Homo sapiens: one gene and its partners. The protein of the gene in region 2 interacts with the protein of the main gene of each other region in a biochemical or structural test. Each region holds a gene or a part of one and is shown on either strand. Other genes may lie near its edges. The genes, in order: LHX1, FOXA2, OTX2 and GSC.

What was found.
Region 1: the proteins of FOXA2 (region 2) and LHX1 form a complex in vitro, tested with the Homo sapiens proteins (one study listed by BioGRID).
Region 3: the proteins of FOXA2 (region 2) and OTX2 form a complex in vitro, tested with the Homo sapiens proteins (2 studies listed by BioGRID).
Region 4: the proteins of FOXA2 (region 2) and GSC form a complex in vitro, tested with the Homo sapiens proteins (one study listed by BioGRID).

The regions. Positions count from the first base shown.
Region 1 is NC_000017.11:36,933,367-36,940,477, reverse strand, and holds the start of LHX1 (LIM/homeobox protein Lhx1), read right to left. Parts: upstream 3,004-7,111; 5' UTR 2,281-3,003; coding exon 2,111-2,280; intron 189-2,110; coding exon 1-188. UniProt on the Homo sapiens protein: Potential transcription factor. May play a role in early mesoderm formation and later in lateral mesoderm differentiation and neurogenesis.
Region 2 is NC_000020.11:22,581,560-22,588,821, forward strand, and holds the start of FOXA2 (hepatocyte nuclear factor 3-beta), read right to left. Parts: upstream 3,014-7,262; 5' UTR 2,720-3,013; coding exon 2,633-2,719; exon of another isoform or gene 2,184-2,632; intron 1,596-2,183; coding exon 291-1,595; 3' UTR 1-290. UniProt on the Homo sapiens protein: Transcription factor that is involved in embryonic development, establishment of tissue-specific gene expression and regulation of gene expression in differentiated tissues.
Region 3 is NC_000014.9:56,807,459-56,814,580, reverse strand, and holds the start of OTX2 (homeobox protein OTX2), read left to right. Parts: upstream 1-4,101; 5' UTR 4,102-4,205; exon of another isoform or gene 4,206-4,358; 5' UTR 4,359-4,422; intron 4,423-7,122. UniProt on the Homo sapiens protein: Transcription factor probably involved in the development of the brain and the sense organs. Can bind to the bicoid/BCD target sequence (BTS): 5'-TCTAATCCC-3'.
Region 4 is NC_000014.9:94,767,723-94,774,463, forward strand, and holds GSC (homeobox protein goosecoid), read right to left. Parts: upstream 2,392-6,741; 5' UTR 2,294-2,391; coding exon 1,939-2,293; intron 1,496-1,938; coding exon 1,236-1,495; intron 928-1,235; coding exon 769-927; 3' UTR 501-768; downstream 1-500. UniProt on the Homo sapiens protein: Regulates chordin (CHRD). May play a role in spatial programing within discrete embryonic fields or lineage compartments during organogenesis.

The DNA of each region.
Region 1 (7,111 bases), on a different chromosome or scaffold from region 2:
TTAGGTAATCCTCTTTGCAGACGAACTTATTCTCGTCGATGATGTAGAGTTCCTCGCCAGTGGAGAGCTGCTTGTTACACATCATGCAGGTGAAGCAGTTCAGGTGAAACACTTTGCTCCGCGCTCTCCGCACCAGGTCGCTAGGGGAGATGCCCTGAGCGCAGCCTGCGCATTTGGTACCGAAACACCTGCGGGGGGGTGGGGGTGGGGGGCGGGGGCGGGGATGGGTCAGCCAGGGGCAAGGGGAGACAGGCGGAGAGAAAGATGACAGCGAGAAAGAGGGAAGATGTAAAAAGTGGAGGAAGTAGGAGAGGAGGAATGGAGCACAGAAAGAAGGGAAGAGAGAGATAAAGAGAGGCAGAATTCCGGTTAAGCAGGTGAGGAGGCAGCAGGAGAGAGAGCGCGGCACCAGGGAAGAGTTAGGGAGGGGATACACGCGGTTAGAGCCAGGGGCCCAAGCTACCCGCCAAGCCCCAGCCTCACTCCCAGCGTTATCCCAGAGGAAAGATGCATCGTCTAAAGAAGGTGGCAAGGCAGTGACCTGTGTGGGCGGGGGGAACGGGGCACTTATTTTCCGATTAGATTCAGAAAAGTCGAATTACAATTAGAACTCTATATAAACGTGCGCGGAGCGCCGCTTTTCTCTCCTTCATCGCAAAAGGACCCGCACATAGGCATGGGGTTGGCGATGTCTAGCCCCGCTGTTGGTAAACAAACATAGCCGCGGAGAGCCCCCCTCCGTAGCCTTAGCGGGGCCGCCGCCACGCTCTTGCCTAAAGCGGGACAGGTTGGCAAAAGCGGGAGCTGCGGGAGCTGGCTCTGGGCGCTCTGCCGCGGGTTGTGGAAGCCAGGCTCAGGGACCCACTGGCAGCGGGTACGAGTACGGTTTGCCACCCTCCCGCTATGATCCAGTCCTTGAGGAAAACCGGGCAGCCCGCGGAGGCTCAGAGGCTCAGCCTGCGCGTTCTCCCGAAATACCAGCGAGCACGGAGCTTTGCTTCATGGTTCCACGCAACCCAACCCCAGCCACGAGTCCTGGAGCGGCACTGGGGACAGCGCGTCTTGGCCCTCTGAGTGGCTTTGAATCCCTCTTCCTCCTGCTCCCTGGTTTGAACTATGACCACAAACTCAGAAAAGCAGAGACCAAGTCAGCCGAGTAAATTGCGATATTTCACATCCGTAGGGTGGAATTACAATTCGCATTTGTGCCCGTTCTTCTCTGTTGACTTGTGTGTTTGTGTGAATGGAGCGGCAAAATTGTGAGTGTACGATAATATAATTAAAATGCTAAACGAATAAGGGGGGTAGGGAGAAGTCTCCCCACCAGCAAGCTGGAGGTCTCGGCTTTCCCCCAGGTTTCATCAAGGAGGTTGCTGGCTGTGGCTGGCAGTTTCCTAGGAGGACTACTGAGCGGAGCCCGTGGGAGTCGGAGTCACCTGGGGCTGAAGCCGAACCACCAGACAACTTCGGCAGCCAGGGAAGCAGGAAAAAGCTCCGGGCACTTCGCAGGCTACAGTGCAGCAGTTTGTCCAGGTCTGCACTCGGAGGCATGTCCGGGTTTGGGGAAGACCCCCGGGCGTGCAGGATCGGCTTTAAGGCCGAGTTCTTTCCTGCCGCTGACAGGGCAGTTGGCCCAGACACTCTACGCAAAAGGCTCGGAGCTTACCGCCAAGACCGCTCGGGGTCGGAAAAGGTAGTGGCCGGGAGGGAGCCTGGGCTCTGCCTGGAGGGCAAACAACCCCGAAGGCCTGGAGAATGCAGTTGCTGCAGAGCTTGGCTCCGGGAAAGACAGCAGTCCGGGCTACAACGCCCGAGGCTGCCCTGTCTCTTCCAAGCTTGAAGGGGCTTCTGGGCCGAGTCAGGCTCAGACCCTTTCTTCCCAGGCACATGCAGCCAAACCCAGACCCATAGTTTCCAGGATGCAAGCAGGGCCGCGTCCCGGGCTCCCAGCGCGCCAGCTGGCGGAGAGGCGGGCGCCCGCGGGACTTGGCTGCCCTCTCTAGAAGCAGTTCCTAACTGGGCAGCGAGGCCACGCTAACCTCTGATCCGAAGCTGGCCGGGAAGGGCCCGCGGGGAGGTAGCAGCAGAGGCGTGGGAGGAAAGTACTCACCGGAAGAAGTCGTTCTTGCAGTAGAGTTTGCCTTCCCTGGAGAAGCACTTCTCGGTCAGGTTGCATTTACATTCACAGCACTGGACGCACTTGACGTGCCAGGCCCTGTCCAGCACGTTCAAGAGAAAGCGGTCCAGGATGGGCCTTTTGCAGCCGGCACAGTGAACCATGGTCTTTGGTTTGGTCTGATGAGGCCCAGAGAGAGAGAGGGGCAAAGTAGAGCCCAGGGGATGACTCCTGAAGACAATCGGCACGAGCTCCCCAGTCTCTCCAAAAAGAGGACACACACTCGGCCGTGCAAGCCAAAACTCGCACCAGGAAATCAAAGTAGGGTGGAGGAAACGAGGCTGATCGGGGCCTGGGGGGGCGTCTCAGTGAAGTGTGCAGCCGGGGAGTCCCGGGGCCCCGGGCTGGAGCGGCGCCGCCTGAGCTCCCGGGGCGAGGAAAAGAAGTCTCAGGCGGGAGAGAATGCGACCCTTCTGCTCAGAGCCCGCGGAGGAGTGAAGGTCAGCGAGAACGGCGGCGGGAACGGAAATAAATAAATAAAAACGGAGAAGAAGAAGACGACGACTCGCCGAGCTCGGGTTGCGAGGAAAGCGCCGCTGAGTTCTCCGGGGCTTGAGGTAGAGCTGTCAGAAGTCAAAGTGCATCTGCTTTTGTCGGGGTATGAGGGCGACTGTGTGCGTGCCAGGCTGCCCACCACTGGGATTTCCCCCCTCTTTTTTTAAAAAAGGGAAGGAAAGAACAAAAGGAGCAGAGAAGCTTTGGATCCTAAACTGCCGGCATCGCGCCGCGGGTCTGGACGCGCCGAGCGCCCGCGCTGGGCCTGGGGGAGGGGGCGAGGGCCGACCGCGGGAGAAGGGAAAGAGGGGAGGGTAGGAGGAAGATCTTGGTGTTGATTGCTGTTGTTGCTTAGGTTTCCCCGCTTTTGGAGAAGTGTTTGTGTCAATCGAAAACAGAGAGGGACAACTCCGTGCGGAGGCAGCCAGGCGCACTCGCTCCTTCCCTACCGCCCCAGCCCAGTCACCTCGGCCCTTGGCCTGCCTGGCGGCCTCCGTGTCCTCAGGGCGACCCTCCCTGCGCCCGGGCTCCTTCGGGAGGCACTACGGGCTGGCTTCTCACCGCGCCTGGCCGTGCATCGTGGCTCCAGTCACAACTCGCGGCCGCCTGGGCGCACAGCCCCGCATCGCTCGGCCCACGCTCTGTCTGCCTCCGTCTAACCCCACAGTCGCTCGACTTTCTCTCCTTTTCCTTTTCCCCTTCTTTTTTTCGTTGTGGTGGCAAATCTGGGTTTCCTTTCTAGCCTCCTTCCTTTTTTTTTTTTTGTTTTTCTTTTGCAGCGGGAGGAGTCGGGGAGGAGGGGGGCAGCTTGGAGAGCTTTAAAAAAAAATGTCCTGGCGCAGCGGCTACAGTAGGCCGGCGGCTGGAACGGCTCGGCGCGGACCGCCGCTGTCGCCGCCCGGGCCGCGGCTCGTTGCTGGCCCTCCCCGGGCGCGTCCCTCAGTCCCTGGTCTCCTGGCCCAGTCGCCGCCCCGGTGCGTCTCTCCCCAGCTCCGGCGGCTTGGTCACTGCTCCTGGCTGTTGGCTGAGCTCTGGAAGCCCCCTCGCCTTAATGCAGCGCCCGCTGACGTCACTGCGGCCTGCGACCAATCAGCGCCTCGCGGTCCCTCTGTAAACCATTCTGCATCCCCCGGCCCGGGAGAGTGCGGGGAGACCGCGTTTAGAGGATCAGTGGCGGCGGCACCCGCGGCCCCGCGCGGCGCGGACGGCGGGCAGCACCGTGCCTGGGCCCCCTCCTGCTCCGGTAAGGCGTGGGTTTCGATGGGAGGGACAGAGAGAGAGCGGGAATAGGCGCAGGCGGAGGCCAGAGTTCTGCTGTAGAGTGGGGGTAGTCCAAGACCGAGCCTTGTGGAAGGTTGGGGTGCAGCCGGGTCCGGAATCCCAGGCGGCTCCCCTGCACTGCTGGGCTTTGCAATTCAGCGGCTGTTGCCATTGTCCCCCCGTACTTTCTTGAGCTGGAAGTTTGTCCCAAGCGCAGCGCACATCTTTGGAGGGGGAGGAGGCTCTTAGCAGCAGAATCTCCCTCCTCCCGTCCCTCTTTCTGTGCCCCCTCCCCCAATCCATCCAAAGTCCACAGGGTCCGGGTCCTGGGCGAGCTGAGTGTCTGTCTCCCGCAGAGCACTCTTGCAAAGTTGATTCGGGCGGTTTCCTGATGGGGGCGGGGAGACCGGAGGCGCGGCGCCGGCGCGGGGGAAGGAGTGGACCGGGAAGCGCCTCGGGTGAGGAGTTGCAACCCTGGCGAGAAAGTTGTGAGAAAACTGTGATCCGGAGACACCTTTTACGTACAAAAACAAACGACTAGGCGGGAAACCGGGGGCTCCAGCGGCGGCTGGGGGTGGTGGTCGTGGCGTTGGGAAGAGGGAAGGAGGAGGGGGGGGTGCCGGGACGCCACGAAGAGGCTGCAGTAGATGGGCGTGCAGTGCATGGGCAGCGTGTGCCGGGATTCCAGTCCTCCCCTGTCCAGGCTTCGGGTTGGCACCGGCTTCCCCAGACAACAGCAAACCACACCCTCCATAGTTCACTCCTCAGGGAACCCGTAACTCCCTAATCCCGCTCTGGCTAGGAACTCGGGACCGCCGCCCCCAGGGGCCTATTTTCCCACACGTGGGGGACAGATCCTGGTCTAGAGTGCCTTCGCCTGGAAGAGTTACTGTAGTTTTTCGGAGCACTCAAGTCAAACCCTAAATTCCGTTTCGACCACACCTGTTCTGGGTGGGCTTAACCAGGATTTCTCCTGAAGTGGAGTCTGAAGGTGGTTGGGCTGGGCGGTCCCACTTTTGCTCCCCGTTTTTGTGCTTCGGGGGAGGGGGTGCTAGGAAGGCTCATTTGGCCCGAGCATGGAAGGCAGTGATAGTGGGCGTCCCTCCGGAGCTGGCTGGTATTGTGGAATTGGCCTTTGGACCCCACTCGCGATGCGCAGACCAGACGGAAGCTGAAACGGGGGAAATGCTCGGGGAAGCGGAGTCGCAGTGAACCTGGGCTGGCAGGGAATCCCGCTGTGCAGATGGAATACCCTCTTCGGACGAACGGGGAAGCTGCTTCAGAGAATCTGGCTTGCGCTCCGTGGAACCGTGGGGTTTTAGGGCTTTGCCAACGCCCCTTTGCTGACTCCGCCCGCACCGCCCAGCAACCTCAAGGCCCACAGGCAGCCCCCCGCCTTGCCGCCGGCGTCACCATGTCATGGAAACCGAAGCCGCGGAGACCCGCAGTGCGACTCGTTGGCGTTCTGCCCTGACCCGTGGGTGCCGGGACCCTAACGCCTTCTCCACACCTTCTTGCACATACACATGTGGGCTCCCCGCTGCGGGCCGGAGGAGCGTAGGGGACTAGTCAGCTCCGGCGCGCCGCCGGCCTCCGCCGGTCGCTCCCAGACCCCGACGCGGGGCAGGGCAGAGGATGGAGAAGGCGGTTCTGCGATCTAGGGGGCGGGCTCCGCGGGCTCGGACTCGGCTTCGCGCTCCTCCTGCGGACCCGGCACTTCCCGGCGGAAGACGACCGGTACTCGGTAGGCTTCTGGCACCCCCGCAAGCGCCAAAAGCCGTGTGGCATGGGGTCCCCACTTCTTCCACCCGGACCCCCAGGCGCCTCCCAGCCTGCTGCGCTGCGTGAGGCCTGCGGGGAGGGGGCCAGTCCAGCCCTGCTGTCCTCACACTCCTCCCCTCCCCGCAGCTGTCCCGGTTCTCGCCGCCAGCGCCCTCGACCCAACCGCCCCTTTCTGGAATCTATAGTGGCCCCAGTCCCGGGTGGCTTGCCTCCGCCCCCGTCCCAGCTGGGCTCCTTCTCATGCAAAGCAGAGGGGTCACGGTGGAGTGTGGGGCGGTCAGTGGGACCTACCGGACGACAGCTGGACCTAGCTGTCGGCCCTTCCCCAACCCAGGGCCTGTCACCTCCCTCTGGTGGGCAGGAGGAGGTTGCTCCATCCATTTAGGGGTGTAAGAACCTTGGGACCTAGGTATAGGGGAAAGAAGGCCCCTCCCCACAGACGGACCAGCGAGGCAGGAGAGTTGAGGATGAGGACAGGACGCTCGCTCTAGGGCGTCAGGCTCCGCTCGTCCTGGTGTCCAGATGGCTCAGTAAACAGGTCCGCAGGAGCCAACCCTGGCGTCTCTGCAAGGGGGGCCAGGAGCGCAACTCAAAGTGCGCCTCTTGGCTCCAGATTCTAGGTTTGGAGTCCAGATTTAACTCCTCCACGGGGACAGCACATTAGACAAATGGTGGGTTTTGTTTTGTTTTCGTTTCCATTGAGCTTTTGTTTTAAAACATAATCGGTCGCAGGGACATGGAGAGAAAATTGACCAGGCTTTCTAAATTCGCCTTCTCCGAAGCCGCTCAGCTCAGCTCTGCATTTAAGCCAGTTCCGTTCAGCGAAGAGCACCAACCTTCCCTCCTCACCTTCCCGGCCACATTTATTGTCTGCATCCTCAACTACGCAAGCGTTTTCCTACCCAATGTCCTCCACAGACCCACAGCCACTTACACCGCCCAGGACCTGTACATTCTGGACCAGGGTCCGCGGGGATCATTTTCGCCCATAGCTCGGTGACTGCAGAATCCTTTCCACCCTCCTCCCAGGCACCCCCGGATACGGCCCCAGAGGGCCTAGGAGGTGACTTTCACAGTCCAGGTTTCTTTTCTTGAGAAGCTCCTTGACGATCAGCCCCAGAGGGACCCTGGTCAGAACCCGGGTTGGAGAGGGTTCTGTCAGCTCTCTCCAGCTGCCATGCAGTTTGGGGAGCCTGAAGGTGCCCCTCTCAAACTTCCACTTCCCTTCCTTCCCCCGCCCCCGCCCCCTCCAGGTTCCAGAATGACGCTCGGCCCATGGACAGAGCCTGCCCAGTCACTCTCGGCTGCTATTGATCCCGAGGATGATGGCCGCCCCTAGCCATTTCCCTCCTCTCTCTTCGGTTCCAGAACAGCCCAAGGAGCAGAAAAGAGTGACAA
Region 2 (7,262 bases):
GAGTCTACACAGTAGTGGAAACCGGAGGCTTTTTTTTAACTTTATATTCTTTCCCGTTTTCCTCCTTATATAGAACGTGGGGTATCTGTGTGGCCCTCTGTTTGGGACGGAACGGCTGCAGCGGGTGAAGAAGACTGCTGTCTTGGGGGTGTTGGGGTGGGGGTGTTATGGATTTCTTCTCCCTTGCGTCTCTGCAACACCGTCTCCCCAAAGTCTCGACCCCCACTTGCTCTCTCACTTGTCCTCGATCCGGGGTGCCAGAGTTAGCCGGGCCTGAAGCCGTCGTCTTCTTAAGAGGAGTTCATAATGGGCCGGGAGTACACCCCCTGGTAGTAGGAGGTATCTGCGGCCAGGGGCGAGGCGTCCAGGCCCGTTTTGTTCGTGACCGGGCCCATGGCCAAGCTGCCAGGCATGGGGGAACCGTAGCCGGGGTAGTGCATCACCTGTTCGTAGGCCTTGAGGTCCATTTTGTGGGGTTGGTGGTGGTGGTGGCTGTGGTGGTGCTGCTGCTCCGAGGACATGAGGTTGTTGATGGAGAACGGGTGGTTGAAGGCGTAGTGGTGTTCCGGCTTCAGGTGGGCCTCAGGCGGCAGGCCCGGGTGGTGGGGCGGGCCCAGCAGGTGGGCCGCGGCCTGCTGCTGCTGCCCGGGAGAGGGCGCCGGCTCTGGGGGGCTCAGCGCCGCAGCCGGCGTCCCCTTCAGCTCTCCCAGGCCCCCTCGCTTGTGCTCCTGGCACGGGGAGGCGCTCGAGTGAGGCGACTCGGTGCCCGCCGGAGTCTCGGAGGCCGGCCCGGCGGCCTCCCCGAGTTGAGCCTGTGAGGCCTGGGCTCCGGCGGCCGCCTTCTTGCCGCTGCCGGCGGCGCCTGCGGCCTCCTTCAGCGCCAGCTGCTTCTCGCACTTGAAGCGCTTCTGGCGGCGCAGGTAGCAGCCGTTCTCGAACATGTTGCCCGAGTCAGGGTGCAGGGTCCAGAAGGAGCCCTTGCCGGGCTTGTCGGGCGAGCGGGGCACCTTCAGGAAACAGTCGTTGAAGGAGAGCGAGTGGCGGATGGAGTTCTGCCAGCGCTGCTGGTTCTGCCGGTAGAAGGGGAAGAGGTCCATGATCCACTGGTAGATCTCGCTCAGCGTCAGCATCTTGTTGGGGCTCTGCTGGATGGCCATGGTGATGAGCGAGATGTACGAGTAGGGCGGCTTTGCGTGCGTGTAGCTGCGCCTGTAGGTCTTGGGGTCGCGGGCGCGGCTCAGGCCCGCCTGCCCGTACATGGGGCTCATGGAGTTCATGTTGGCGTAGGGGGCCAGGCCGCCCATGGCCCCGGCCGCCTGCCCCCCGAGCGGGCTCAGGCTGGGACTCAAGTGCGGCCCCATGCCCGCCACGCCGGCCGCCCCGGCCGAGCCGCCCATGCCCGCCATGGCGCCCGCGCCGGGGGACATCCCCGCCAGGGACGGGCTCATGCCAGCGCCCACGTACGACGACATGTTCATGGAGCCCGCGCTCATGTTGCCCGAGCCGCTGCCCATGGCGGCCGCCGACATGCTCATGTACGTGTTCATGCCGTTCATCCCCAGGCCGGCGTTCATGTTGCTCACGGAGGAGTAGCCCTGCGGACAGAGCCCCGGGAGGGAGGCGACAGCGTTAGCACCGCGGCTGGAGGGTGCCCAGACCTCCCACCCACCGCCCAGGCCTCCGCGTCCGGGGAGGCCTCCGGGGAGCCCTTTCGTCCCCGATGGCCCAGTCTCCGGACTCCGAGTCTGTTTCATTCAGGGAGAGTCATGATCGATCGCCCTTGGGAAGGTGGCGAGCGGATTGCTGCTTGGGCATGTGGCCCGTTCCTAGCCCTTCTCCACCTCGCCCAGATTCTAGAACAGGGGTCCCATGGAGTACTCCCAAGCCAGCACCCCAAATACATTCCCCTACCCCAGAGTCTCCCCAAACTCTCCCACCAGCATACTGAGCTGGCGCCGAGGCCCGAAGTCCCCGGACGCCACCTCCGGTCGCAGCAAGCAACCTGCGGGACAACGCGCGGGGCGCCTCGGGCTGCCTCCAGCGAAGACTGTCCCGGGCCCCCTCTGTCCGGTCTCCCTCCAGGGACCCCCTCCCTTGTCCCAGGGAAACTGCAAGGCAGTGCCTGTGCGGAGTGCGGGGGCGGCTGGAGGCACTGAACGGGGCAATAGGGAAAGAACCGAGACCTGAACCACACGCGGCTGAGCTTTGCAGGCAAAAACTTTCTTTCTCTTTGTCCACTAGTCTTTGACTCTGCCTCCACTTCAGCCCCCAACTCCTACCCATCTTCTCCTCCTCAGCTCCCCACCCCCTCGCCGGCCGACCTCCCACCCCTCCCCAGCCGCGCGCTGCCAAACATAACTCTGTTAGGATAGTGCGTGGCTCGGCCACGAAGAGGATTTGGAGGCGCCGCAAGTCAATATTTGATCACAAAGTTAATATTATCTCAAGGCTAACAGTGTGTCGTATAAAAAAGAGACCCATTTGATTCCAAGGAGGGCGGAAAAGGCGGCTGCCCAGAAAGGCTGGGGTTGTGGGGCGGGGTGGGGGGGTGCCAGCGAGGGAAGCGGTCCTGAGGTTGGGGAAGGAGCGAGCGCCGCCGCTCCACTTCCCCCTGGAAAAGACGAGCGCTTACCTCGGGCTCTGCATAGTAGCTGCTCCAGTCGGACGGCTCGTGCCCTTCCATCTTCACCGCTCCCAGCATACTGGAAGCCGAGTGCATGGCAGTTTAAAATTTAACAGCCACAACAAACGACCAGCAATCACCCCCCACCCCCACCCTCTTTTAAAAAAAAGTCAGCCAAAGCACCGTCCCCTCCTCCCTCCCTCTCTCGCGCTCCCTCTCCCTGGGCTCCACTCCCTCTCTCTCCCTGGGCAGGCCGGAGGCGGTAGTTGGAAGTGGGCGGGAGGTGGGGGGGGGCGAGGAGCGGAGGAGGCCCAGGCCAGCGCCCCGCGGTAGGGAGCACCCGCCGCCGCCGCGCTCACGGGCTGCCGGGTGGCGGCTGAGGTTGGCAGTGCCGAGCTGCCCCGAGGCGGCGGGAAGCGCGCGGCGCGGGGGCTAGTGGGGGGGTGGGGAGGAGGAGGAGGAAGGAGGAGGAGGAGGCGGTGGTGGTGGTGGAGGAGGAGGAGGAGGAGGAGGAGGAGGAGGAGGAGGAGGAGGTGTGGACCGCGGAGCGGACAAGTGCCGCAGTGACGTGGGAGGCTGGTGATATAGCGCGGCGCGCTGGCGCGGGCCTCCAATCCCCAGACCCGGGGCAGCCCATTTGAATAATCAGCTCACACCTAGGTGAGAGGTAGCCGCAGCCGGCGCTCCGCACCTGCCCCTCAGCGCCTGCCGTCCGCCCCACCGCCGCGGCGCCCCGCACTCCTGGGCGGGCCAGGGGAGCGGGCTGGGCGGGCGATCGGGCACGCGGGATCCCTGGTCGAGCCCCCTTTCCTCCCGGGTCCACAGCGAGTCCCCTGAGGAAGGAGGGACCTGGGAGGAAACCACCCTCTGGGGCGGCTCCGGCCTCCAGCCCCCGCCCCGTCTCATCGCGCCGGGCGCCCGGTGCGCCTGTCGGAGGGCGCGTCCAGCCTCAGTGCCCGGCAGATCCCTATGAAAGCCGGATTTATTTATGCCGGGTTTCTTCGCTCTCAGTGCTCATTCTCTGTCAAAACAGCAAGTCCATGACAGCCAATTTGCAAAGCGCTGTCCTATTTAGAAAAACTACGTACACACCTTTAACTCGCCCGCTGCTGCTCCTGCGAGGCCCCTCCCTGTTACAGTTCAGACCCGGAACGGCCTCGGGAGAAGCGCGGGGCGCACGGTCTGGCCGCCTCGGCTCTCCGACTCCTCAGACACCGGCCGCCAGGGACCCGCAGTGGGGCGGCCGGCGCCTGGCGCAAGCAGCCCCTCTAGCAGCGGCCGACGGTTGGGAGGCTGAGATTTGTCTCTGATATTCAGGCCGGCGTGTTTCAAGGTTACTTTTCAGTCACAACCGAGGTGCCCACAGCATTTCGTAACTAAAACAAACAGGGCAGGAGGTGGGGAGGGAGGGGTGAGGAGAGAAGAATCCAGGAATCAATGATGGGGCATATGGAGTTGACTTCAAGAGCGTCTCTGTCCTCTCTGTCTTCCAGAGGGACTGCTTAATAGAAATTAGAAACTCCAGCAATCGTATACTTTTATTTCCCCAGCAGCTCTTGGGTTCAAAAATTGTCTTCTGTTCTGGGTTAGCCTGTGAGCCCAGATTTGGAGTGGGGGGATATTGCAGGTGTTTGGATGTGGAGGCTCTTTCTTGGTTCTGAAAACCTGGCTGGACCTTGGGGATCCAGCCCTGTACCCACCCCCTCAGACACAGAGAATGCATAGGAACTAGTGGGCATCCAGCCCACCTGTCCAAAATTGGGGGCGATGGTGGCAGAAGACAGGCGAGATGGCAGACACGGAGCTTCGCATTGAAGCTTGAGTAAGGGTGAGGCTGGAAGGCAAGCGAGGAGGTAGCAGTAGGCACAGGGGAACCACTTCCCTAACCCCAGGACTCTCAGGTCTGCACGGTTTGGGACACAGAAGGAAGCCGCCGGCAGCATCTTTTGCTGCTGAAATGCAGATGGTTTGGACACTTCATAAAGAGGGCATTAATAAGCCCGCCGAGTGAGCGCCAGGGCGGGATTCTCCCACAAATTCAAGGTCTGTATCTCCGCGGAAGCCGTGCCTATCGGTCCCCCGAGTGCTGAAGGCTCCCACGAGGGGCAGGCCAGCCCGGTGCGCCAGGGAAGGAGCTTGATGGTGTGTACGGCTACGTAGTGAACGTGGAGGTGTGCGCAGCGGAGTCAGAGGGGCTAGATCCCCAGCATTTCCCACGGGGTCCCACCTAGCGCGTGGATGGGAGCAACTTCATCACTCCACCGAGGGCAGGGAAAGAGGAGTAAGCATTGGAGCTCAAAGAATGAGCAATTTTTCAAAGCTTTCTCCGCAGGCCTGGGCAGACACACACGCACACACACACACACCGCACCCCCAAAACTCAAAAGAATGTTATGGTTGACCTAGTCTGTGCGTGTGCTGTATGAGAGTATTTGTGAGCTTATGTGGGTGCCCACTTCCCTTTCTATTTTGCTCCTGGGTGGAAATTTGGTCCCAGAAATTATTCCAGGAACAGAAGGAGCGAGCTGGAGGGCCGCAGGAGAAGGGGGCGCTACACTTCCAAGGAGCGGACTTTGGAAGCCCCCACCTCCACCACAGCACTATTGGTGGCCGGGGTCAGGGACACCAGAGAGCGCTCGGCGGGGGCTTCCACAGTGACAGGGCGCCCCCTGTCGGCCGCCAGGCCCGCGGGACCGACCCGAGTCCTCATTTACCCCCGCGATCCCAACCCCGCAGCTCCGGCACCGGAGCACCTTCTCCCCCGCTCTCCCAGTCTCTCCGAAAACGCCTTCGGGGGGACTCGGCCTTTTTGGAGCCCCAACCCCTAGGTTCTGCGCGAACCCAAAACGGCCTCCTGCACCCTGGCGAGGTTCTGGGAGCTCCGGTAGGGTAGGGCTGGATGACGCCTCCTAGAGTCTCGGAGCAGCCGCTCCCGCACCCTCCCGGCACGCCTGCCCATGGGAATGCGAGCGGGGTCTACGGTTAGCTTTAGGTAGCTGGGAGCGGGACACCAACGGGCTGCGAAGGAAGCAGGGACGTTCAGACAGCCTGGGGTTCGCGTTCCCTTCCAGCTCAGCGGTCTTTGGAGCTCCTCCTTCCCGGAGTTCTGATTTCTAAAGGGCTATCCAGAGTTCTGGCTCAGGCTTGAATGCTGAAGATTGCTCCCGGAGTTTCTCTCCAGGAAAAAGTTCGCGGGGACCTCGGGCTGCAGATGTTTCTCCCAATCCCTCTTTAGTCTACCCTCATGTAGGGCCGAGACCTACAGAGCCCTTCCCTTTCCATTTTGTTAGGTCACCGCCGGCTTCTATAATAAAGCTGCTTTATAACTGAGGACTGTGCTTGGGGTTAGCATGCTATTTTTATTTTGGATGTTGCCTCAATGGCAAAGTCATAAGACTCGAGTTCAAATCCAGGCCTCCTCTGCTCTCCCTGGGAAGAAAACACCCAGGCCATCCAGGTCTCCTAGGCCTTCATCTTGCTGGAACAATCTGCGTTCCCCTAGCAAAAGTCCTCCCTAGAGCTCTCTTTGTCACATGAAACCAACCAGTGCAGAAGGGGCATCATTGAACAGAACTCAATTTTCCTAAGTGAGAACCCATGAAATACCTAAGGAGAAAAACAATAAAAGTCCCATTAATACTCCAATTCCTAAAACCTTTCAGAGAATAAATACCCAGGCAAGGCCTTGCTCAAAGTTCCCCAGCGTGTTTAGGGCAACATAAGGCAGATATGTAGGCAAGATGAAGGCAGAGGGGATGGAAAAGTGACAGCACAGTCTTGGGAAAGTATGCATTTTTACTTTCTTATAAACTTTTTAATTGGTAAAAAAGCAGATGTCCAAACACCCCTTATTCATTCTCTGGATGAATCTCAAGTCTCAATGAAGAAAAGGCATATCGTGTGTCAAAGATTATAATCAACATTTCACTTTCTTTGGGTGGGTTATTATTTCTGAAATGTACTGAAAAATCAGCCAGGCGCAATGGCTCATGCCTGTAATCCCAGCACTTTGGGAGGCCGGGGCGGGCGGATCACCTTAGGTCAGGAGTTCAAGACCAGCCTGACAAACATGGTGAAAACCCATCTTTATTAAAAATACGAAATTAACAGGATGTGGTGGCCCATGCCTATAATCCCAGCTACTTCGGGGGCTGAGGCAGGAGAATCGCTTGAACCCGGGAGGCAGAGGTTGCAGTAAGCTGAGATCGCACCATTGCACTCCAGCCTGGGCAACAAGAGCAAAACTCAATCTCAAAAAAAAAAAAAAAAAAAAAATTAGACCATCAAAATTTGTCTACTTGGCACTGAGCACACCTTCAAACACTTATGTTGGCTTTCAAAGTTCTTGGATGGTCAAAAGACCAGTTGTTTACGGAGAGGGCAATTGAAAAGGTCATTAGCTAAGAACACCTTATCAGAGGGTATTTATGTAAAAGAATAAAAAAATTCAGCATGTTGCAGCCTTCAGCAAAGGCTCAGGAAAATGCTGATAAAGGGGGAGGCAAGGTGCAACATTTTAAGTTTAATACTGTGTGCACCTGCATGCAATTTATCTCTCCACCGCAAGATCCACAGGAAAAGATGAAACATACATTTTTAAAATGAGAAAATAAAATGAATTAAATAAATACGATGTTAG
Region 3 (7,122 bases), on a different chromosome or scaffold from region 2:
TTAATCCGTTTCATTCCGGAACAACATGGTCCTCTTTTCCTCTTTTTCGCATTTGGAGTTTGCCTCCCTACTCTTTTATCGAGACAGCCCAATCCTATCTTTGAAGTTGTTTCTTTCTCCCTTACCCTCTTTTTTGAGGCAACCGCAATGCAGGGAGTGAGAGACCCAAGCTTAATTTATAAGTGATCTGTTGCCTTATTTTTTCCCCTAAATTTTGTCTGCATTTCCAGTCTTAAATCCTTGTTAAAAAAATTAAGGTTAATCTCCTCAAAGTTTATAATAAAGATATATCTAAAAACCTAATGAAAAAATGACTTCTTTCTAGGTATTATGGTGCTTCTAAGGCAAAATGTAGTCCCTCACTGTCCAGTGAATTGCTGAAAAGATTGGAAATTAATGTTCATATTTCTGAATTCAGTGTTAAGGAAGTCTAACTGGCTCCTTTCCCCCAAAAGGCTATGTTCTCACGGAATATGGGTTTTGTTCTTCTTTTTTAATTAGCCTGGAAGAATCCCGGGATGTCTTCTCTCCCCTCCCCCTCCCCCACTCCCCCCACCAAAGTTAATAAACTTGGAGGAAAGTTTGGAATATTTTAAACTGGCCTGGCTTGTGCGGTGGAGAAATTGAGCCTAGTTAGTGCCACACATGAATCTTGATTTCAAAATATGCATATTAGACATATTCTAGAAACTGCACACAAGCTCTGACAAATAATTTGATTCCCTTCGTATTGGCTTTCTTAATTTAGCTTCTGAATGCTTATATCTCATATGCGTAGCAAAATAATTGTACAAGTGGCAATTAAAAACCATCCACTTTTTAATGAAAATTATTTAAAAACACAAAGCATGCTACCATAAGTCAGATTCATAGAAAAAAAATGTTAACGACACAGGACACAGAAAAAAAGTTAAACACAGAAATACAATGAACAGATACTAGGTAAATTGGAAGTTCAAGAACTTACTGAAAATCAAGAGTTAGACTTTTCATCCAAAGAGTCTTTTTCTCCCACCAAGCATCTAAGGTTTTCAGTAAAAGAGCCCAGCCCCCTTCCCCCAAAGCCAGTGGCTTTTGTCCTGACCTAGAATAGGGTTTGTGGGGACTGTACCTGAGCCGGGCAGTCTGCAATTTCCAAATTGACAAGAAGAGACTGGAAGATAAAGAGCATGTTCTTACAGGTGAAGAGCAATTTTGCAACTTTTCAAGGCGACACCCAGGAGAAAGCTTGCCTGCTACCAACTGCTGCAGAGTCTGGGCAGAATTCCTCTAGAAAGAAAAAGAAAGTCTTTCACCCCCCCCCCCCTTCCTTGTCTGCCTCTCTCTGTCTCTAGTTCTCTTTCTCCTCTCTGTCTCTCTCTCTCAGATCCAATCTTTTAAGAGCTTCAGCACATTGCTAAGCTAAAGGGAAATTCTCTTTGATAAAGCGGTGTTTCCAGCTTCTGGGTTTTAAAACCTAAATCTATATTCAAATCTGGCTGAAGGTGTGTTCTGGGATTTATGAAAGCCTCTTAAAGGGGTAAATTTACCAAACCGTGACAAAATCATCACAATCTTACTTTAGACATCTGAAGTGGATGAGAATTTTAAAGAGACCCTTGTTTATTTAACACTGTCCATTTCCAACTCGTAGTTTATTGGCCCTGTATTTCTGCGAAGTTATTAGACTAGAGGGCAAAGGAGAAGCGGGAGCTGTCTGCTGCCGGCCGCTGGAAGGGCAAAACCCTCTCACGCCCCACCATGCATAAATCTGCCCCTGTCGAATAGAACAGGGGGATTTTTAGGGAGATTCAGCTGCCCCCGCCATCTGGGAGGACATCGCAAACCTCTACATCGGGCTTGAAAGGTTACCCTGGACACTGGACCCTACGGCAGATGGATCTCCCAGTCCAAAATGGTTTACTTGGTTTAGCTCACAAGCGCATGTTCTGATCATTCTCCATCCCACCCCATGCCCACTGTCCCCAAGGCCTTCCTCCGGCCTTCCCCTCTGCCAGATTCACAACGTCCATTTTTCTTTTTCGGCTCTTTTATGCTTTAAACATCATTGTGATCAAACTGGGGGAAACGTTGTCTTTTCTAGGGGTAGGAAGGAGACTCTGCTTCAGGTGATCGAGGTGGATTTGCCTTTCCTTCATCGAAAGCATCATGACTCTGACCAAGCGCACCCAACCAGTGCCTCCGACAGCCAGCGCCACGAGGGTCATAACGCCCGGGGCATTTGTTACCCCCTCCTCACCACCATCCCCATTAAAGGCTTCGGGGGCGGCCGCCAGGTGTTTCAGTACAGTGGGGGTGGGGTGAGAAAAAAGGTCGGTACTCACCCTCCCCCCCGCCCGGGCCCCTAGAAACTCTTGACTCCTGGGAACGCGACAGCCAGCGGGTCTCCGGACTGGAGCTGCTGCAGAGGGCCGGGAAGGAGCTGGGCGGGCTCCGGGCCCCTCGGGGGCTCGAGGGGCCGCCAGGGCCCAAAGCTCTAGGGACACCTGTGACAGGGGCCGCTGCCGCGGAGTCCCCAGCCCCAGGCCGAGCCCGAGCCGGAGCCCGGCTGCCGAGAGCTTGCTGCCTCGTGCGCACTCCCGTAATTCGTTAATTGCTGTAAATCCCAAGGACGGCCACATTTGAGTACACATACAGTATAAGAACCGACAACAAAGCGACGAATTAATTACCAACTTCATTAACATAGGTCCCCAAATTAAAGGCAGCGAGCTGTTTCTTTGGGCCCACTGGCCGTGGTGGTGATGGTAGTTGGTGGTGGGTGGGTGGCGGGGGGTGGGGTATTTAGGAAGAGATTTTATTTTTCTTTTCCTGCACTGGGTGTTGTGAAGCAAGAGCTGTCTTCTGCTCCCACCCCCACCCAGCTTATTCACACACACTCACCAGTTCCACTAGCCACCCCCCACCCCACACTCCGCCCAGTCTGTTTTTGCTTTTCTAGGGACTCGGATCCGTTTGAAACCTGTCCGGTCCCTGCTTTCTATGCCAGGCAAAAAAGTTGGGCTGGGGGTCGCACTCTCCGGCTCGGGCCCCCAGGTCCCATCACTTCCCAGCCTCTGGGCTCGCAGCCCGGGGCTCGGGCGGCGCCAGCCCAGGTAGCTCCAGGCCTCGCAGTGTCGGTCGTTTGGTGGCGTTTGTTCTAACACAGAAACTGTTTCCAACGGGGGCCTCCCTCGTTCGCTCTCTTCCACGATATCTTGTCGACCTCACACTCGCATCCTCGAGGCCCGATGTGGTCCCAGCTACTTCTCCTAAATGGGCCCTGAGATTAGATTCCGGGGTTCGTGTTCCCTGCAGTCTGTCGTGGGCTTCTCAATTCCAAAAAACCCCAGGAACCTACCAGAAGCCGGGGTCTCTCACTCGGGGATCATTTATTTATATGTGTAAGGATATTTATAAGGGCGTAGGGAATAGAGAAGACACTGAGTTTTAGAAAATAGTTTGTTCTTGGACTTGTGTATCTTTCTCTCTCTGTTTTCCCTACATGCCCACATCGCACTCCCAGGCCTCCCTCCTTTACCCTTTCTGGCCGTCAGCGTGCTCTGGCCCTGTCTGAGACGGCATAGTGGTGTTTTTGAGTTTCAGTCTGACTTGCTTTCTGCCTGTCATCCACACACTTATTGCTGGGGTTGAATGTGATAACCCAGTCACTCCCTAACCCGCCATTCTCCAGCATTTACTTAAATATTTTTATCTTCCATCTTACATTGCATGGGTTTCCTTTCTTCCCTTCCCTAAAAACAACAACAACAAAAAAAAAAAAAAAAAAAAGAGAGGAAAGGAAATTTCGGAGTAAAGGAAGCAGGGGAAAAGAGGGTAAGAGAAGAACTCCCTGTCCATCATTTTAATTATACAATTAGTTCACATGCTCCGGCCCATAATGTATATTTTAAGCAAAGCCCAGTGTCTTTAAAGAACATTCTGGTAATGTCGGAGGCCTGGATTTGTTGCCTGCTCGTCCCCCCGTGCAGCAGCGGCCTGTTTTCCTCCCCCTGTTGTGTGTTTTTATTATTTTCCCTCTGGCTTAGATGTGTCAATCATTCTCTCCCTGCCATTGGTTGGAGAGTTTGCGTCAAAAAGTTGCCAGAGAGGCGCTTTCTCAGCAAATCTCCCTGAGAGCGGGACCGGCCTCAGCTCCAACACAGCCTCCACTGTGATTAAAAATAAAAATTGCTAGAGCAGCCCTCACTCGCCACATCTACTTTGTATGTATTGCAGAGGGGCCCACGCGTGTTTAGAACTCTAGCCGCCTTCCTCATTTTCGTTCTTTAAAAAAAATTTTTTTTGGTTGTGTTTGACTTTTCATGGAAGGGTGAAGACTGCAAGGTTTCTAACTCAATACTCTTGATTTCTTTTAGGATAGCTGGCTATTTGGAATTTAAAGGATATTTGACTTTTTCTAACCTCCCATGAGGCTGTAAGGTAAGTGTCCGTCTGTCTTGTCTATATCCATATCTACGTGTCCCCGTGTCTGTCGGCCATCACCCCAGTACCTCCAATAGACCGACCGATGCCCCTCTGCGAACGTGGAGTTCTGTAGGCGGATGTATTTTTTCTCTTACAAATTTTGAGGTGTAATAACGATCGTTGCAAAAAGAAAAATGTGATCTAGAGATGAGAGCGGTAGTGGGAGAGAGGCAGAGAGCGTGCTCCTGGGGGTCGTCGCTTCTGCAAAACGTCGTCGAAACGCTGCGAATGTAATCTGGGGTGTTTTGGAAGGTTTTGTTTGTGGTTTTGTTTTTATGTCAACGCCGTTCTGGGCTTCTCCCGCGATCTTTGCGTTTTGGCCCCCAGATTTGGTTGGGGTCGTTTGGATGGATCCCAGGGACCTTTTTAGAGTCCGAGACAAAAAGATGCAGATGTAACTAGATGGATGGATTGAAACAACAATAATAAAAAGCCAGGCGCCTCCTTGGGCCCGCGCGCCGGAAGCTCGGTTCGCTTGCGGGTCGGCCTGGGCCGGGGGCCGCCGCTCGAGCCCCTGTCGGCCCCTGTTGAACGTGAGCGGAAACCGGAGCGGATAACCGAGGAGGCTGGGAGCGCTGGCTTCTCGTCCGCCCCGGCGCTCACTGCTCGCTCTCTTTGGCCTCCTCTCCCTCAGCCTAGCACAGCTCGGTTGTCTGTTTCTCCCAAAAGCTTCCAGATCTCCTTTTTGTTTTTAAATATCCACCACCCCCCAAAATCCAAACCACCCTGGGTTGTAATTACGCAGCCTCCCAACCCCCGGTTGTCGTGGTCCCCGACCCTGGTCACCAGGCCGAGCGAACGTGAAGAGTGTTTTTTCAACATGACTTTGCCGGGTCGCGGCCCGCCCCACGTAGCCCTCCGCGCGCACCTGGGGCGGGCAGAAGTGGCAGCTAGTGGCCCCTGCTCCGCCCAAGGCCGCGGCCGGGCCAGGGACCGGAATCCTCCCGCTGGGACCGCGGCCCCTCAGCTGTTCTCTGGCGGGGAGAGGCAGGGCTCGCCCGCGCGCTCGCGCACCCCCTTCCCAGGCTCCAGGACAATGAGGTGTCGTGGCTCGGGGCCGGGCGGGGGCCGAGGGGTTCGCCGAGGCCCAGCCTGTGCCATGGATCGGCCCAGTAAGAACCATCCGAAGGTCCCTGCCAGCGCCGGGCGCGGGCGACGGGTCGCTCTGCAAACTCCCAAGAAGTCTTCGCGTTGTTGCGTTCAAGTGACTCTTGAAATCGATGCCCGATTTCGGGACATATTTTTGGAAACCCAAGTCCCCTGTCAGGATTCCACCGAGTTGGCTTTTGCTTCCTTCACAGATAGAACTGGTGCGCGGGGAGCGAAGGCCGAGCGGCGCCGACCCTGCGGTGGTGGATTGCTTGGGGAGGGGACGGGGAAGTCGCTCCTAGAAATTCTCCCCTCCATCCTAGAGCTTCGGGGTCAGGATTTCTCCTGCTCAGCTCGGGACTTTTTACAGGCACCAAAAGTTATTAGCAACAGAGGGGAGTAGGAGAGGGAACTCCTCCCCCCAGAGTAAGGTAGACACCCAGACCTCAGCGCTAACACCGGGGCTTTCTCCCAACGATAATTAATAGTCAAGGCCAACCCTTTTGGCACGTTTCTTCCTCCCTCCCTCGCGGGTGGCAGAGTTATTTGATTCCCCGAGGCCAGAAACTTTCACTCGAGTTCGCCGGAGAGAGGCCAGCGCCGGCCGTTTTCCGCGGTGCCCACACGTCTCCTTTTTCTTTCTTTCCTCCTCTTCGTCGTCTTCCCAGCCGCAGGCCAGTCGCCAGTCCGCGTAGTTTTGTTTCCTTTCCATCATGCAGAAAATTAATCAGCCCGGACGAGAAGCAGAGAGGAGCATGGCGGCCTGTAATTAAGGGACGTGTGCCCCTCGGATTATCTCGTTAGTTTATCAAGAAAACATTTATTATAATTAATTCTCGGACGAGGTAATTATTGTTGAGCGAGGACACAGCAACTGGTAGATGGGCTTCTTGGAAGAAAAAAAAAACAAGGCGTGGGGGAGGGAGAAGCGACAGATTGCACGAATTGACCGTTAGATATAAGGCTGCGCGGGGGGCGCGGGCAGTGGAGCGGGACCTCGGGCGCCAGGCCTGCGGGGCTGCGGGGCTGCGGGGCTGCGGGGCTGCGGGGCTGCCGGGCAGGAACGCGGGACCCAGGCACTCGCGCCCGGAGGTGCGGTCGCCGACCGGCTGCCGGAACTCGCCGCGCGACCGCGGTCAGCTTCTAGGTATGAGTTCTCCAGAGGCCACCTCGTGAGCAGTCATAGTGAGGCGTGGATTTTTCAAAAGTTATTTCTTTTCCCCGTTCTGGACCCTGCTTCGAGAGGAAAAGAGCTTTGAAAGTTAGATTGAAGGGCCCATGCCTTCTATGCAGAGTGCATACCTAGGCCGGTTGTGGAGAGAATCTCTTAGTTTTGGGTTTTGGTTTTCCTCTTTTCCTTTTAAAGGTGGATCCAGGAGCAAAAGTGAAAATAGTCTATTTTGAGAATTTTAGCCATTTTGCAATGGTAAGGGCAAAGGAGCCCCTGGAAGGATCTCGGCCCTGGTGCTTTCTGTGTGTTACTGGCTTTTTATGTTGGAATGTGCTACTTTATTGTATGATGTGTCAGGCATTTCTAATTGGGTGAGAGCTCTACATGTAAGAACA
Region 4 (6,741 bases), on a different chromosome or scaffold from region 2:
CTGGAGCATCTGTGGAAGTTCCAGGAAAGCGCTGGGGGAGGTGGCATGCCCGCTGCCTAATTCCCCCGTGGACCCGCCGCCTTAGGTTTCTCAGAAGCAGGGCTGAGCAGCTTGGAGCAGTGGGCTCCGTGGGAGCTCCCGGACTCCCCTAGCTCCCACCTCATCAGTGAGGGAAGAAGTGCTCCTTCTGCCCTCGGCAGAGGGGAGTCAGGGACCCAGGCTGCCCCTCTCAACTGCAATGGTACCTCCTCCCGGCTCTGGCCCAGCAATGCTACTCTCCAAACCTTCCTAGACATAAGGTTTCCTTTTAAACCAGGACACCCATGCTGTGACTGTTACCCAGAGCTTCATTTCTTGTTTGTTTGTTTGTTTAGGTAGATCATAGCTGCTCAGTTTTTTCCTCCGGAGGTTACGGACTACATAGACTTCTTTTCTTGGCTCCAGACTGATGGTGGTGGGTGGGTGGGGCGGGGGGTATGAAATACAGAATGTGGCCCGTCTACATCGCCATCACTTTATTGTACTGTCACCCTTAATTTAACTATAAATACTACGGTGGGGGCTAGTCGCGGGCGGCCTCGGGCTGCTGGGCTGTGCGCGCCCTGACCCCAGACGCCGACCCTCCCGGCTCTGTACACTATTTACAGCTCCTCGTTCCTCTTTCTCGACCCCCTCCCGCAAGGCAGCGCGTGTGCAAGAAAGTAGCATCGTCTGTCTGTGCAAGTCCTTCGAGTTAGGTAAGTAATACGGGCAAGTGTCCCGCGGCCGTCAGCTGTCCGAGTCCAAATCGCTTTTACCTTCCTCTTCCCTCTTCTCCGGTGACGCCTTCGACGACGACGTCTTGTTCCACTTCTCCGCGTTCTCCGACTCCTCTGATGAGGACCGCTTCTGCCGCCTCCATTTGGCGCGGCGGTTCTTAAACCAGACCTGTTGCGCAACGGAGGACAAAACAGTTCAGATCAAAGGCGCGCTTCCCCCAGTCCCGGGGCACCCGGGGAGCTTGGTGTGGCGGCGGGACACCCCGCGCAGGCCAACAAAAGGAGGGGAGCCGCTCGCTCCCGCTTCCGCGTTTTCATTCAACTTCCTGGGCCTAAAGCGCCCTCCAGCAGCCTGCGGGCCGCCATCGGGATGTTTTTAAAGTGCGGGGAGAGCCAAGCAGGGCTGGGCAAACCCGACTGGGGCCCCACCTCGCGGGGAAGGACCGCTAGGCGCCCACGGCAGGCCCCGGCGCCTACCTCCACTTTCTCCTCGCGGAGGTGCACTTTCCGGGCCAGCTGCTCGCGCGTGCCCACGTCCGGGTACTTGGTCTCCTGGAAGAGGTTCTCGAGAGCTTCGAGCTGCTCGTCAGTGAAGATGGTGCGGTGCCGCCGCTTCCGCCGACAGTGCAGCTGGTTGAGAAGCTGCAGCTCGGTGCGCGACAGCGTGCCCACGTTCATGTAGGGCAGCATCTGGTGCGGTACCGGGGACACCAGCACCGAACCGGGGCCCTCGTAGCCTGCGACAGAGTGGGGCGCACGGTCAGCCGCCCGCCCTCGCCACCGCACGCATGCACGCCCGCCAGCCCCCGACCCTCTTCCACTTAGAAGTCGTCTGCAAGGGGATGCTGAGAATTGGGGGTGCACGGGAATCAGGGGTGCAGGGAAAAGGAGGAGGCGTGTTAGAGCATCCATCCGCACACCCGCCAAAGCCAGTAAGAGAATTCAAAACAAAACAAAACAAAACAAAACCCAGTTTCCCCGGGCAGGCACTGAATTCCAGTTTTCGCGAACTCTGGCCAAAAGTTTGCAGCAAGAAGTTTGCAAACTCCTGCGCCCGATCGGCAAAAGCGGAGGGGGGAGTTGCAAGAGGAGCAAAGTTTGAGGAAGGTGAATTAACCAACCGGCTCCATGGGCTAAGGACCGCAGTGGGCGGCAGAGGCCGGAGCGAGCGCGACCCTACCTGGGGGCGTCGGGACGCAGGAGCACTGCTGGGCGCCCAGCGGCGGCACGGCCCCGCAGCAGGCCGGGCCCACGGGCGCCGCCTGCACGTGCAGCTGCCCGTAGAAGTAGTTGTTGTAGCCGAGGCGGGAGCCGCTGACCGCGGCCGGGAGGCCCGCGCCGCCGGGGGCCACGGGGCGCGGGTAGAAGGCGCCATAGTCCGAGGAGGCGCCGCCGCTGGCGCCGTAGAGCGAGTCCCCGTGCAGGGCCGGGAAGACGACGGGAGCCGCCGCGCTGTGCGCCACCGGCAACACCGAGTCCTTGCAGCGCGGCCGGGCGGCTAGGATGTTGTCGATGCTGAACATGCTGGCGGGCATCCCCGAGCCCCGCGTCGGGACCGGGGGGCGGCGGGAACGCGCCGAGGACAGAGCCTTAAAGTGGGGGGGTCCACTCTCCTCCAGCCGCCGACCAAACCGAAAGAGAGCGCCGGCGAGCGCGCAGCCCTGCGCCCCTCCCCGCCCCCTGCGTCCGCTCTCCCTCCTCCCGCCCTCCCCTAGCCGCAGCGTTCGCTGAACTCAACCCGCGGGTAGGACGGAGCTCAGACCAGCTGAACCTCTTGTTGGTTTTATACTGAGTCGACGTCATCCTGGATTTAGTTCCTGGTAATATGCAGATGACAAACAGAACCAGATTTGGCCCTTTCTTTTCCTTTGGGTGGGGGAAGAGGGTTGGGGGGAGGGGGAGAGGTGCCAAGGGGAGGGGGTTACAAGGCCTGAAAAGAGATTGTGGATTGCGAATTAATGAAATTAACCTAATCTTTTCCATTCGGCAGCCGGGCCGCGGGCCGGCCGAGCTGGGCGGGCGGCCTAATTGCCTTGGTTAATCTCATTAATTCCTTTGTGCCGCCGCAGTTAACAACTCCCTCCGCCCGAGCTCTCCACCCCCACCCTTTTTTCTCAGATTGGGTCCTATTATTGGGTGCGATTTCCTCTGCCTGTAGCTCAAATTCATTGTGGACGATTTTACTTTGGGGCTACTTTTTTCCCCCTTTCGGAATTGGTTTTGTTTTAGAAAATGTGAGGGGCTGCATCCCCTCTCAAGCAGGATTGAAAATTCCACCACTCCTCCGCGCCCCCACGTACTCACCGCCTGATTTACCTCTTTTTTAAATCTTGAGTTTCTCTCCCGAATGGAACTTGTTAACCCCCCCAAAAAACTTTTGGTTTTGTAAAATCCAAATTTTGTAAAGGCAAAAACGACTAAAGGAGGGGTGCATCGTGCTTCTTAAAAAGATTTTTTTTTCCAGCCACTCTGGGTCTGAAAACTACCATGGCAGTCCCTAGGTCCTACACAGCGAAGACCAAATTCAGCCGCTCTTTAAAATTCGCCACCAAGAGTTGCAGTCTGAAGCGGTGCTTCTAGCTGCTCCCAGCGTGGGTGTCGGTAGTTTTTGTGCTTTTAAAAAATTAGTTTTGGAAATGTGGTGCCTTCTCTCCCAAACTATTTTTTTGATTTTCAATCCAGATGGGGTCTTTGGGACTTCCCTATCTTCTTCCCCAATAATTGGGTCGCATTTTTCCTTACGACCTGCTGGCTGCCGGTAGGCCTGCCCTTCCGCCTGGCAGGCCCAGAGTGGATTCCCTGGGCCGCAGTGGCCTGGACGATGGCCGGGTCTGATAGCGGCAGGCGGCCGCGATGATTTGCGGGATTCTCGGCATGGCACGGCCAGCCTGCCCGAGCCACGGGAGGCGCAGCCAGCCCACCACTCACGGCAAGCAGGCGGCCGAGCGCCCTTCGAGAAGGTAGGCGACGGTACGCGCGGAACAAAAGCAGTCCCCCAGATCCTGTGGACCGGGTGCAAGCTCCCGGCTTGCAACTCAGGCCACTCCAGGGGAAGGGGCAGTACCCGACCCAGGCGATACCCCCGAGAGCCGGAGAGGGAGATGGGGTTGCGGGAGACCTCGGGTTTCCTGAAGGAAGTCCGCCTTTAACTCACACCTATTTTTCGCGATTTCTCTCAGGCTAATTAACCAAGGGACCCCGCAAAGTTGTCTGAAGTCGCCGCCGTAAGGCTAAGTAAGTGGGCTGCCCACTCCCCGGCTCAGGGGCAAAGGGGAAAGCCCACTTGTCAATTTCTGTTCGGGTTTCAAAGAGCCATTGCACGGAGGTTTAGTCCTGTCCGAGGGCACTACTGTGGCGGCGCGCAGAAGCGGCCCAGTGGAGCCAGGCGGCGACGTTTCTCCTCCTAGGCCTCCCAGCGTGGACCTCTGTGTCCTCACGGCCACCAGCTTGTGGCCTGAGAGTTGCTCCTTCCAGTGCTGCGCAAACTAGAGGTGGTTGTAAATGGGGATTAGGACATGACGGAGATGGGTCTCAATTTGGGGAAGTGAATAGAGTTTTCCTTTTTTTCTTTTTTAACAATAAAAACAAAGAGGGAGTGTGACCCTCCCCTTAGAGAGGTCAGGTCTAGGGTAAGAAGTGAGGCACCTTCCATCTCCCACTGACTAGGATGAAGTCTTTTTTATTGTTGTTCCGTTCTCAGAGACTTAAGTCACCATGCTCCAGGGCAGATACTCCCCCACCAATCTTTCCCAGGTTTAAAGCTACAGGGCAGTTGATGGACGACAACTAGAGGCTGCAACTTATCAGTGACTGCCTGCGTTTGTGTTGGAGGCTGGGTGTGCGCTGCGGTGCGCGTGTGAGTGGATCTTTTAAGACCTTTGTCTGAGCCGGGCAGAGGCACAAGTGCCACCTGACGCTTGGGGCAGATTCCTCGTCCTGTTCTTGCAAAGATGCCAAATCAGGAGAGTGTCAAGATTTCAACCGCAGACCTAAAAAAAGTGTCTCCATGTTTTTAAAAGTATCAGACAACCACCTCCACACACCCCTCCGTCTCCCCTTCCACCTGGAACATTGTTCTTTTTAATAACCAGGTTTAGCAAACTGCTATACTGCGCCTGTGCTTTCCTGCAGCCCTCCGCTGTACCAGCTGAGCCCTGTACAGAATCTGAGCGTCAGAGTTGCAGACCCAACCTTGCCACCTTGCAAATCATCCCTTCTCTGGAGGCCTCAGGATTTTAGTTGATCAAACCAACACCAACATTCATTGGGTCCCTTTGCAACCCTAACATTTAATGAGACTTGGTAATTGTCATCCGTTCGCCAAGGAGGTTGGGGATGAACTTGGGGGCATTTTCTTGTTTATTTTTCATTGAGACAAAGGAGTGTGCTGTCCCCACCTCCGCCCCCAGACAAGGACAGGGTTCCTACATCAGCTGGGTCTAAAATAAGGAAAAGCGAGTGCTGCCGCAGAGGGGACTTTCCGGGAAGGGGGTCACAGGAACCCCAAGGCCACACAGCTCCAGACACTCTGCCGGAGCTCTAGGGGAGCTCACCCCTGCGCGGCGGGACCTCCCCCATCGGGTTGCCCCTTCAATCTGCAGCCGCGCGGAGGCAGGCCCCGGGAAAGGCAGTCGGCGCTCGGTGCTCGCACTGCGCCTCGGCGGGCGGAAACTCACAAGTGTCCTCAACGTGCTAAACAAACCATCAGGGCCCCGCATCGCCTGGCGCAATTGGAATAACAAATGCGACGCACGCAAATTGTCCACCTCGTGTTGCTAAGCGATTGTTTGTCGGCCCCGCACGCACAGCTCAGCATGGGAGGACCGCGAGCGTCCAGAGGCAGCCGGCGAGCGCTTAGGTCGGAAATGCAGTAAACATGCCGCTGATTTTCCCTATTATCACCCAAACACGATTTCACACAAAGCAATCACCACGCAGAAGTCTATGAAAATGTGTTTGTTGAGGAGTCACTCGCCCCAGTAATAGTCCTCATTTTTAAGATATTAAAGAATAGCTCAGCGGATTCCACATGCATAAGGTCTATTTGCCGTTCGGCATCTGTCACGGCGCTTTTGCACTGCGGTCATCACTAAATTGATTCATAGAGTGTAGATTAAATTGCTTCTCTGATTTAAAACAGTGTCCAACTTTGGAGTATGCGTGTGAGTATCTTCTCCCGCCCCAAGGTATTTTTGTCAGGGAGAAAACTGTCGCCCCACTATCCTTACACCCCATTCCGCATAACTGTAAAAAAATAATGCATCTTCGACCCCAACTTCTTACGGTTCGTTTCAGGAACTTTCTTAATTCTCTCCGTCTCCTGCCCGGCCACAGAGCAGAGTTCACAATCGGATGCGTTTAAGTCGGATTTTTCGTGTCATGTGCAAAAAGCCGGTGTGTCCTTTTCAAGGTACGGAGCCCTCATCGGAGGGCGCATTAGCGGGGTCAGAGGAATTAGGAGCAATGCGCAGAGCCCCCTGCAGCCCGCGTGCTGCGCCGAGACCTCAGCCGTCCTCACTGAGCGGAATGGTTGTGTTGTTTGTATTGGGACTTTTAAAAAATCCAGTCTCAAAGCTAAGTGCTCAAACCCCGTTCCATGGCTCTGCTGCTTTCTGGAGGACATCTCCGGTAGCCCCAGGGGATTGTCCGTGTGAGGTTGGGTGGGTGGAGTAGAGCCAGAGGCGCAAATGCCTCCTGGCTAAGGGGCAGCGCGCATTAGAGCTGGGTCTCCTGCTTTCGGAGCGGAGGGCGTAAGGGAGCTTTCTAGCTGATTTTTTGCTAGAAGTTTTCCAACGCTCCAAATAAAAGCACCCGATCCCCTAAGGACGAAATAATCAAGGTGTTAGGGAAGCTCAACAGAAGAGAAGAGACGAGAAGAGAAGAGAAGAGAAGAAGGGGCTATCGAAAAATGACGTGTTCCCAAGGCCTTAGAAAAATAAATAAATAAATAAATAAATAAATAAATAGCTTGGACTTTCCGGGG